2 separate regions of the Homo sapiens genome follow, and region 1 is linked to region 2. A link means that fine-mapping ties the variant in region 2 to the expression of a gene that starts in the linked region. Tissue or cell type: whole blood. Region 2 holds a variant in brackets; the other region holds the start of a gene. All regions are shown on one strand. Distances are from middle to middle.

Region 1 (4,241 bases), 65 kb before region 2:
AGCGACTAAGGAACAGAAGCCATGTCCATATCTGTGTCTTGGGCAGCAAGATGAGATGGTGGATTGCTGTGCTATTAACCCCCAGACTCAATGTTTTTTTTTTTTTTTCTTTTGAGATAAGGTCTCTCTCTCTCTGTATTGCCTAGGTTGGGGTGCAGTGGTACGATCATGGCTCACAGAAGCCTCAAACTCCTGGACTCAAGTGATCCTCCTGCCTCAGCCTCTCCAGTAGCTGGGACTATAGGTGTGTGCCACTGCACCCAGGTAATTTTTATTTTTTATTTTTTGTAGAGACAGGGTCTTGCTTTGTTGCCCAGGCTGGTCTCGAACTCCTGGCTTCAAGCAATCCTCCTGCCTCAGCCTCTCCAGTAGCTGGGACTATAGGTGTGTGCCACTGTACCCAGGTAATTTTTATTTTTTATTTTTTGTAGAGACAGGGTCTTGCTTTGTTGCCCAGGCTGGTCTCGAACTCCTGGCTTCAAGGAATCCTCCAGCTTCAACTTCCAAAAGCATTGGGATTACCGGCATGAGCCATCACTCCAGCCCCTTAGGGCTTATATACCATAGGGGAGGGGTGGTTCAGAAGGGATGTGTAGGACAATTGAAGTATAATAACATCAAGTTGTTTGAATTAAGGACAGAACATACTGGGTAGATACCTGCTCTTACACAAGGAACAATAGATAAAGTAGAAATCTTAGAGGCCTTCCCAGAACTGGGGTCAATCAGAAGTCAACACGGAGGATTAGCTTCCAAGATGGAGCTGCTTTCGCCTCCACATCCAGCAATTCCACTCTTAGATTCCAATTCCACTCAACAGAAATGGAAACATAGGTCCATAAAAAAACTGTACATGACTGTGTACAGCAGCCTTATTCACAATAGCCAAAATGTGGAAACAACTGAAATGTCCATCAACTGATGAATGGATAAACAAAATGCAACAGAATATGCTCCAGCAATCTAAAGGAACGAAGTACTGTACAGATACATGCTACAACATAGATGAACCTTGAAAGCATTACGCTAAATGAAAGAAGCCAGACACAAAAGGCCACATATTGTATGGCTCCATTTATATGAAATATCCAGAATAGGCAAACCCATAGAGACAGGAAATTGATTATTGTTTGCTAGGGCTGGGGTTTGGAGGGTAGAGTTAGGAAGAGTGACAGCTAGAGGGTATGGGTTTCTTTTACATGTGATGAAAATGTTCTCAAATTGTGGTGATTGTTGAACATATCTGGAAATATACTAAAAATCGCTGAATGGTATACTTTAAATGGTTGACTTGTTTGGTATGTGAGTTATATCCCAATAAAGCTGTTATATAAAAAAAAATCATGCGAGCAATTATCTCAACAATCAAGAGACTGTGTTAAAGATTCTTTGCTTGGCCAAACTTCAGTTAGGCTTCTGAATCTTCTCCCAGGTCCTTGTGTGCACTTCCTTGTAAATGCAGTGTTAGGAAGTAACACTGCCACGGCAGTTTAGCAAGAATCCCCCACCCTCCATATGTGATCAAAATTCTTTACTCCTACCCTTAGTATCTGACCCCCTGGCCTGCCTTCACTGGGACTCCTGTTAGGTTGGTTCAGCCAGAATTTCCCCCAGAATTGATGTTTCCTCTTAGCAGTTTTCCGAACACCTGCTCCTTGCTCCTTGGCTATAAATCTCCACTTATTCCTGGTGTATTTGGAATAGTTACGACTGAGTTGCCTTCACCCCTTTAACTTCCGTCTTTTTTTTTTTTTCACAATGGAGGACACAAAACGTTGTTATTTCAAGTCTTTGTGGCCAACAGATTGGTGGTTTATGGGCCAGCATCCCTTTTTATGCGTAAAATATTTAAAACGCAGCCTGCAATGGTTGGTAAAGTGGTGAAACGTTTAGTGTGTGAGGTCGGATCCTGGTCTGGCCGCTGGCCCTGGCGATCCTCTGAGGCGGCCTGAGTTTGGGGCGCCTCGTGTCACCGCGCGCCCCTCCTCCGGGCCTGAGTCACGGTGCCGCCGGAGTCCCCACGCGAGGATGCTGCGGTGAGCGCGGCCGGGACGCCGCGTCGGGCTCTCGGCCGCCCAGCGGCGCCGCAGGGGAAGCCAGGCCGGCAGCCGCGCGCTCCCCAGCCGGCCACCAATCCCGCCCTCCCCGGCTCCTCCGGACCTCCTCGGCAGGCGGCGGCGGGGCCTGCCTGTGCGCTCTGCGCCCGCCCGCGCCTACCCTCCATGGCGTTTATCCGGAAGAAGCAGCAGGAGCAGCAGCTGCAGCTCTACTCCAAGGAGAGGTGCGCGCCCAGCTGAAGAAGGGCCCAGCCGGGGGCCTAGTCGGGGCCGGTCGTGGGGACGCCGGCCGGAGATCTGAGGGACGGGAGGCGGCGTGGGGGCCGGGCACGGAGGCAGGGGCCGGACGCGTGTCCAGGGCCTGGGCTGGGGGCTGTGGCGGAAACCTGAGGTCGGGGTGAGAGGCCGGGGGCCTGGTCTGGGCCGGAGCCTGCCGGGGACAGGAACTGGATGACGGGCCAGGCCAGATTCCACCGCGGAGCCGAGGCATGCCGAGCTATCCGGCAGTGCAGGTCCCGGCGGCCGCGGGCAGCTCACCCGGAAGGCCGCGCGGGGTCCGGGCGTGGATCCCGGCACGCGAGCCCGGGCGTTCGCAGGGGAGGGTGAGTACGCTGCCCGGCGGGCACCCCCTTTCTAATCCTTCCCCTTAATCGGGTCCAGGCACTCGGCGCCGGCGCCGCAGAGTTGGTCGCCGGGCGGCACCGAGCAGGCCGGCGACCACCCACTCGCATTGCCGCGCCTTTTTCCTGCCGACTCCTTTAGACACAGGACTAGCTCCATGCCCTGGAAGGCTGGGAGGGGGGCCGCCGGAAAGGCCTGATTCTGAGGAAAGCCAAGGTCCTGCCTCCCAAACACTTGCTCCCCGCGCAGTGGACCTTGTGTTGGAAAGCTTTGCAGTCGAAATCGCGGTGCGGCAGCGGAGCACTCATTCTCACCAGCATCCCAGTAAGGATTTGGGATCCCTTGAGCTAAAATGGTCTCACAGCAGTTCCCTTTCAGATATGCTGGACCTGTCCCCAAGGGAAGTCTCATAAGAAAGCTCACTTCGGCTCTATGTATAGTTCCCAGGGCATTTTTGGTGACAGAAACAACTTGCTCGGTCTGCAGCTCAGATGCCAAAAGGAAAGGGGGGCTGAATCATTTTACAGACACACTGTTTTGATTGTGAGAGCCACAGATCTTCCAGTGCTGCTAGCCTGTCACGTTGTCTCATCAGTGAATACCAGCAAAGCAGGTTACACGTGGGAATACAAGTGCAGACTTCAAGATTTGTCTACACTTGTTTTATAAGGGTTGACTCGACCCCTTTGATCCAGACATTCATCTTTCTCTAATCTGTAATGTTGGTCTAACCAGTGTGTCCACAGTACGAAATGTCATTTTTCTACTGTAGAGAAGAAGATACGATACACAGAAAACGTATCTCAGATATGGCTTTCAAAAATGTTTTTGGTGATGTGATTAGGTTTTAGTCACAGAAAGGGTTGTTTATTAAATAACTGAGCCCTAACTATGTAACTCACACTTGGGGATGCCCTTCTGACTGAATTTGTAATGCATTTTTCTTGTGGAAAGAGCTTGAGTGGAGATTCTTTGTTTAGTACCAACAATATTAAGACTTGTTGGTGCTCTGTATTGAGTGGGTGAACATTCATATTTAAATTGTGAGAACTTTGACACACTTGAATTGGCATCATGTTGTATGATATGAGTCATTCGTGCCAATACTCATATTGGCCTTTTTGATATACAGGGAAACGTTTTTTCCTTGGTTCTGGCTGTTATTTCGATGAAGTAATTTGTGTTCAATTTGGCTAGCTCATACAGCTCCGTGGTGTCACACAAACCTTGAAACCTGTACTTGCATTTCCATGTATATGCTGCTTTGTTAGAATTCATTGATTAGACAACAACGTGATAGGCTGGCAGTGTTCAGAGAGAACTCTAGCTCTTGGCAACCAAAACATTTATCTATCCAGTCAGGAGGCATCAACTGTTCCTGAGCATCAGTCATCTGAAAAAGTTGGCGCCATGTGTTTTATATTTATTTGAATTATAACTTGCTGAGTGCCCAAATTGTTTAGTGCTCTGCCCCATGGCTTTGCAACCTGGGCTGATGGGCATACTCCATTCAATGCATAGAATATGCATTTGAATGACAGGAATCTGTCTCACATCAGGTAT
Region 2 (4,241 bases):
TTCTCCTGCCTTATTGCAGTTCTCCTGAAAACAGATACCTGTTTTTGCTGATGTTGTTTGTTTTCAGCTATAGACTGTAAGGGAAATCAAATCGCTTTTATTTTCTGGCAATTGAATATGAGTGAAAGTTGGCCATATATGTTTTGATGTGGTTCTCTTTCTCTTCTGTGGTTTTGAAGCTGGTGTTTGATCCTTAGCTATTTGCCTTTTCATTCTTACAGTCCTAGCTGTCCAGTCTGCCTTCCCAGTCACTGTCAGCCCTGCTGTCTTCCAGAAGGGACTTTCTCTGGCCCTAATTATGCTCTTCTATACCCACATACAGATCTTTTTTTTTTTTTTTTTTGAGACGGAGTCTTGCTTTGTCCCCCACGCTGGAGTGCAGTGGCGCCATCTCGGCTCACTGCAAGCTCCGCCTCCCGGGTTCACGCCGCCGTTCTCCTGCCTCAGCCTCCTGAGTAGCTGGGACTACAGGCGCCCGCCACCACGCCCGGCTAATTTTTGTATTTTTAGTAGAGACAGGGTTTCACTGTGTTAGCCAGGATGGTCTCGATCTCCTGACCTCGTGATCCACCCTCCTCGGCCTCCCAAAGTGCTGGGATTACAGGCCTGAGCCACCGCGCTCGGCCCCACATACATCTTGAATTCAAAGTGCTCTCTCTTCTTCATTGGATTTCACTTATTTAACATTTGACAAACATTTACAGGGTATCTGTTCTGCGCTGGGCATGTGCTAGGCACTAAATTGAACTTGACCCAGTTCTCACATCTAATATTTGGAAAGGTAGGAAAGAACACTCACCTTTCTCCAGTTACCCAGGTTTTAGATTTTACCTAAGACAACTTCAAACCTACAGGCTTCCAGAAGGAGGTTGACACTCTGTGGAGCTTTGGGAGCAAAATCACTTTTTATCTCCTATCCTCCTGTCTGTTCCAAGGACATCCAGACATTTTAGGCATACATAGATGAGCATTCTCTCAAGCATGGAGAAATAGCTTCCTGGAGTTACATGACCCAGGGGTAGCTTCTTTAAGAGAGAATACTCTAGAGGGTTAAATCATGAAGATCACAGGATTATCTTGTGATGCTGTTTCAAACTGCACTCTGCTTAGTCACCAGGCTGTAACCACTGTCATGTGATTGTTTTAAGATGGTAATTGTTTCAGCCCTTCTTAAAGCAGAAGTAAAAGGATTACTCCTGCCAGAAGCCCTTGCGGTAATTGATTTCATCTCTGCTTTCCCCACCCCACACCAGAACAAAATTGTTGCATTCTTAGGCAACTGTCAGGTTTTTGAAACAATGTTGACAAGGAAATGATGACTCAGTCTTGTATTTCCCCAAATTCATAAGTTAGAGGCCGAGTGAAAACTTTGCAAACATTGTTAAAGTATAAAAAGATTCTAGTATTATTCAAAGATACTTTTTATCTTTCTCTATACAATTTTTTCCTTGACTAACGTGGAACCATCTAACAGGTACATTTCAAAGCAGTTATATTGTGACAGGGTGTTTCATTTCTTAGTTGTTTGATTTTAATAGAAAATATTGTTAATCTGATGCTGTTGTCTGTTGGTAACTTAGTTGACTT[AG/G]CAAAAATTTAATGTCGTCTCTCCAGGTGAAGAGTCTTTTGAAGACCTGACCGAAGAAAGCAAAACACTGGCCTGGAATAACATCACCAAACTGCAGTTACACGAGCACTATAAAATCCACAAAGAGTAAGAATATCTCTGCTTCTTCTCAGCAGCTGATAGTCCTGGTAAAAGTTAGGGTCTTGGCATGGGATTAAACTGTTTTAAGCTGAGTCAGAGGGAAAATTCCCTTTCAATGTTGTCTTTATTTTTAAAAATCTCCCCAAAATGTCTATAGTGATCTCCACCTGAGGTTGATGTAGTAGGGAAAGTTTGGCACGAAATGATTTGTGGTGGCTACCGTGCTGTCATTTCTGCAGTCTGTCACTTCACAGTACAAGATGTGGTCGGCAGAGAGCAGCCAGTTTTGTGCCTCTCAAATTGGAGTACACAGCTCCTTGAATCTTTGATGGGAGAAGTGTGATGTATACCCCACGAGTGTTGGATTTACACATAATGTAGGTGAAAAGGCACCTTTTAAAAAAATTAGCTCTCCCAGAGAACATTGCAAAGTTCACATGAATTTTAAAAATAATTATGCTTCTAAGAAATTGGGCTTGCTGTTGGACCCAGAGATGATATGTGTGTTCTCTGCCCTCTCTCATTAAGACCTTCATGTTCTCTGGTAGAAAGGCTCGAGAAGCACTGACCTAGCCTGTTCATCCTGCTACAGAGAGGAAACCCAGGTCCAGAGACTAGGCCCCACCTAGCTCCATGACGACAGACAGCCCCTCCGGCATACAGGTCATGGGTGGAGCTGGGCATACTGCTGTGCATTAGATGGATGGCTTCACATCACAGTCCAGCCTCCCGAAGAGAAACAAGGAGTTTTGGCTGATTCATGATGACAATGGCTGTCTTTTCTCAACTTCTCTAAATGGCACATAGGAAGGGACCTTGTAATCCAAGGTAGTGAAGACTGAATGATCCTTTAAGAGGACAGGCTGGAACCAATTTTCTCATCATTGAATAGTCACTGAGTAAATTAGCTTCAGTAATCAGCAAGTGAAGTGACTGTGAAGAAGAGTTTGTCCTTTTGGTGATGGTCAAACGAGGGGGAATAGAAGGAGAAGAGTTTTCCAATTGCCAGAAATTGTCAGGAATATGTAAAGCATTGCATGTGGAACACAGGGAAGCAAAGAGTGGGGATGTTTTCTAGCCACAGGCGTTGCCAGAACGTTAGAAGGTGCCAAGCAGTGATTTGGTAATGGCAGGTTTATGCTGGGACAGATCCGGCAGACATGCTGTGAAGAAAAAAATTAAGGAAACTTGGTAAAATTAAATCAAGGATATGAAACAAAGAGGGTATCCTAACACATGATGAGTAGTAATTTGTGAAACTTTGTTTTTGAGCAGAGCAGTTACTGGAATCACGGTCTCTCGCAATGGATCTTCAGTATTCACAACATCCCAAGGTCAGTGTTCCTCCCCGAAAGGCGGCTTAACCAAAATCCTAGAATGTCTGAGTTCTTTATTATTTAGCTCGTGGTCAAGGACTGCACTTGCATGTGCTGCCTCCACATAAAGTAAACTTAGAGCAGTTCCTTTGTGGTACATTACATAGAGTTTCATGGTAATTTGCCAAAAATAATAATGAAACATCTTTCTGTTGCTGATGAGGTTTCCCAGAGTTGAGGATAGAGGACAGAAACAGCCTCCTTTCCACACCCTTGCTGGGTCAGGCACTTCCTGCCTGCCCATGAGAGGTGCGCTGTCCACTTGTTGGGGTTGGCTGTGAGTAGCAAGTGCTGTATCAGAAATTGATGTGTGCCTGTCAGCACGTGGAAATGCAGATTTGCTGTTACGGTTTGCAGTTTTGTCATTCAGTGTATATTTCTTCGGGATATTTGATTTAGCTCAAAATCAAATTCATGTATTATTTAATATGCTTATACATTATCAAAATTATAAAAACCCTTGCAGTGTGTCATTGATATGACTTATAGCTGTAAAGCAGAAAGCATCCCTTACTATATACACCATTGTTCTCTCCCTGGTAGTCTGCATTATATATTATTCATTAAAGTATGTCTTGGCCTTGTCATGTTGAGAGCACTGTGTTGGCACTCTGGAAGATGCAGAGATGGAAGGGTAGTATCTTTGCTTCCTGCTTCCATGAGAAAACAACTTGTTCTGACAAAGTTTGTAACTTTATAAAGTAAGGCTACTCGTTATTTAGTCTTTATCATAGGAGATTATATTTTTCATTCATTAAGACAAAGTGCTATCCAACTAAACACTTTCAGGAAAATCAGAATTACTACTCTCAGATTCTGTTATCATTGTTTATGATCTGTAGCATTTCATTCTGTTCTTTTTCAAATACTGTCTTGGATTGTATATAAAAAAATTTTCCACAAAGCATAGAAGTGATTCTACACAGTAGATCAAAAGGAAGTTCATGTGCAGTTCCCAAACTGGGCCATGCCAGGGTCACCGAGGCACTTCTCTGATAGAAGGAAGCAATCTGTATTTTGCCAGGATTTCTACCTGTGGAGTTTGCCAAAAATTATAGCCTCAGACAAAGTGCTTTATCTTTAAGCAAAACCTGTGTTCTTAGCAGGATTTGTCTGGGATGGCTTGTTAAATCGTTCAGCACAGTTGTACTTGTATG

Evidence for each region. PIP is the estimated chance that this variant, and not a neighbour inherited with it, causes the effect.
Region 1: NSMAF starts here. The variant in region 2 is fine-mapped to the expression of NSMAF in whole blood (TOPMed, PIP 0.98).

Annotation. Positions count from the first base shown.
Region 1 is chr8:58,657,613-58,661,853 of GRCh38, reverse strand. NSMAF (neutral sphingomyelinase activation associated factor) reads left to right here and starts at 2,001. Exons shown (of 31, transcript NM_003580.4): 1 at 2,001-2,281. The coding sequence starts at 2,223. RefSeq lists silencers at 1,924-2,263, 2,274-2,723 and enhancers at 2,435-2,997, 3,174-3,463, 2,998-3,561.
Region 2 is chr8:58,593,033-58,597,273 of GRCh38, reverse strand. It overlaps NSMAF (neutral sphingomyelinase activation associated factor), which reads left to right. Exons shown (of 31, transcript NM_003580.4): 22 at 1,615-1,714; 23 at 2,984-3,042. Among named protein-coding and RNA genes, the nearest start is that of SDCBP, 42 kb to the right of the region's middle. RefSeq lists enhancers at 1,049-1,098, 1,448-2,647. The variant AG/G (reference allele first, on the strand shown) is at 1,588.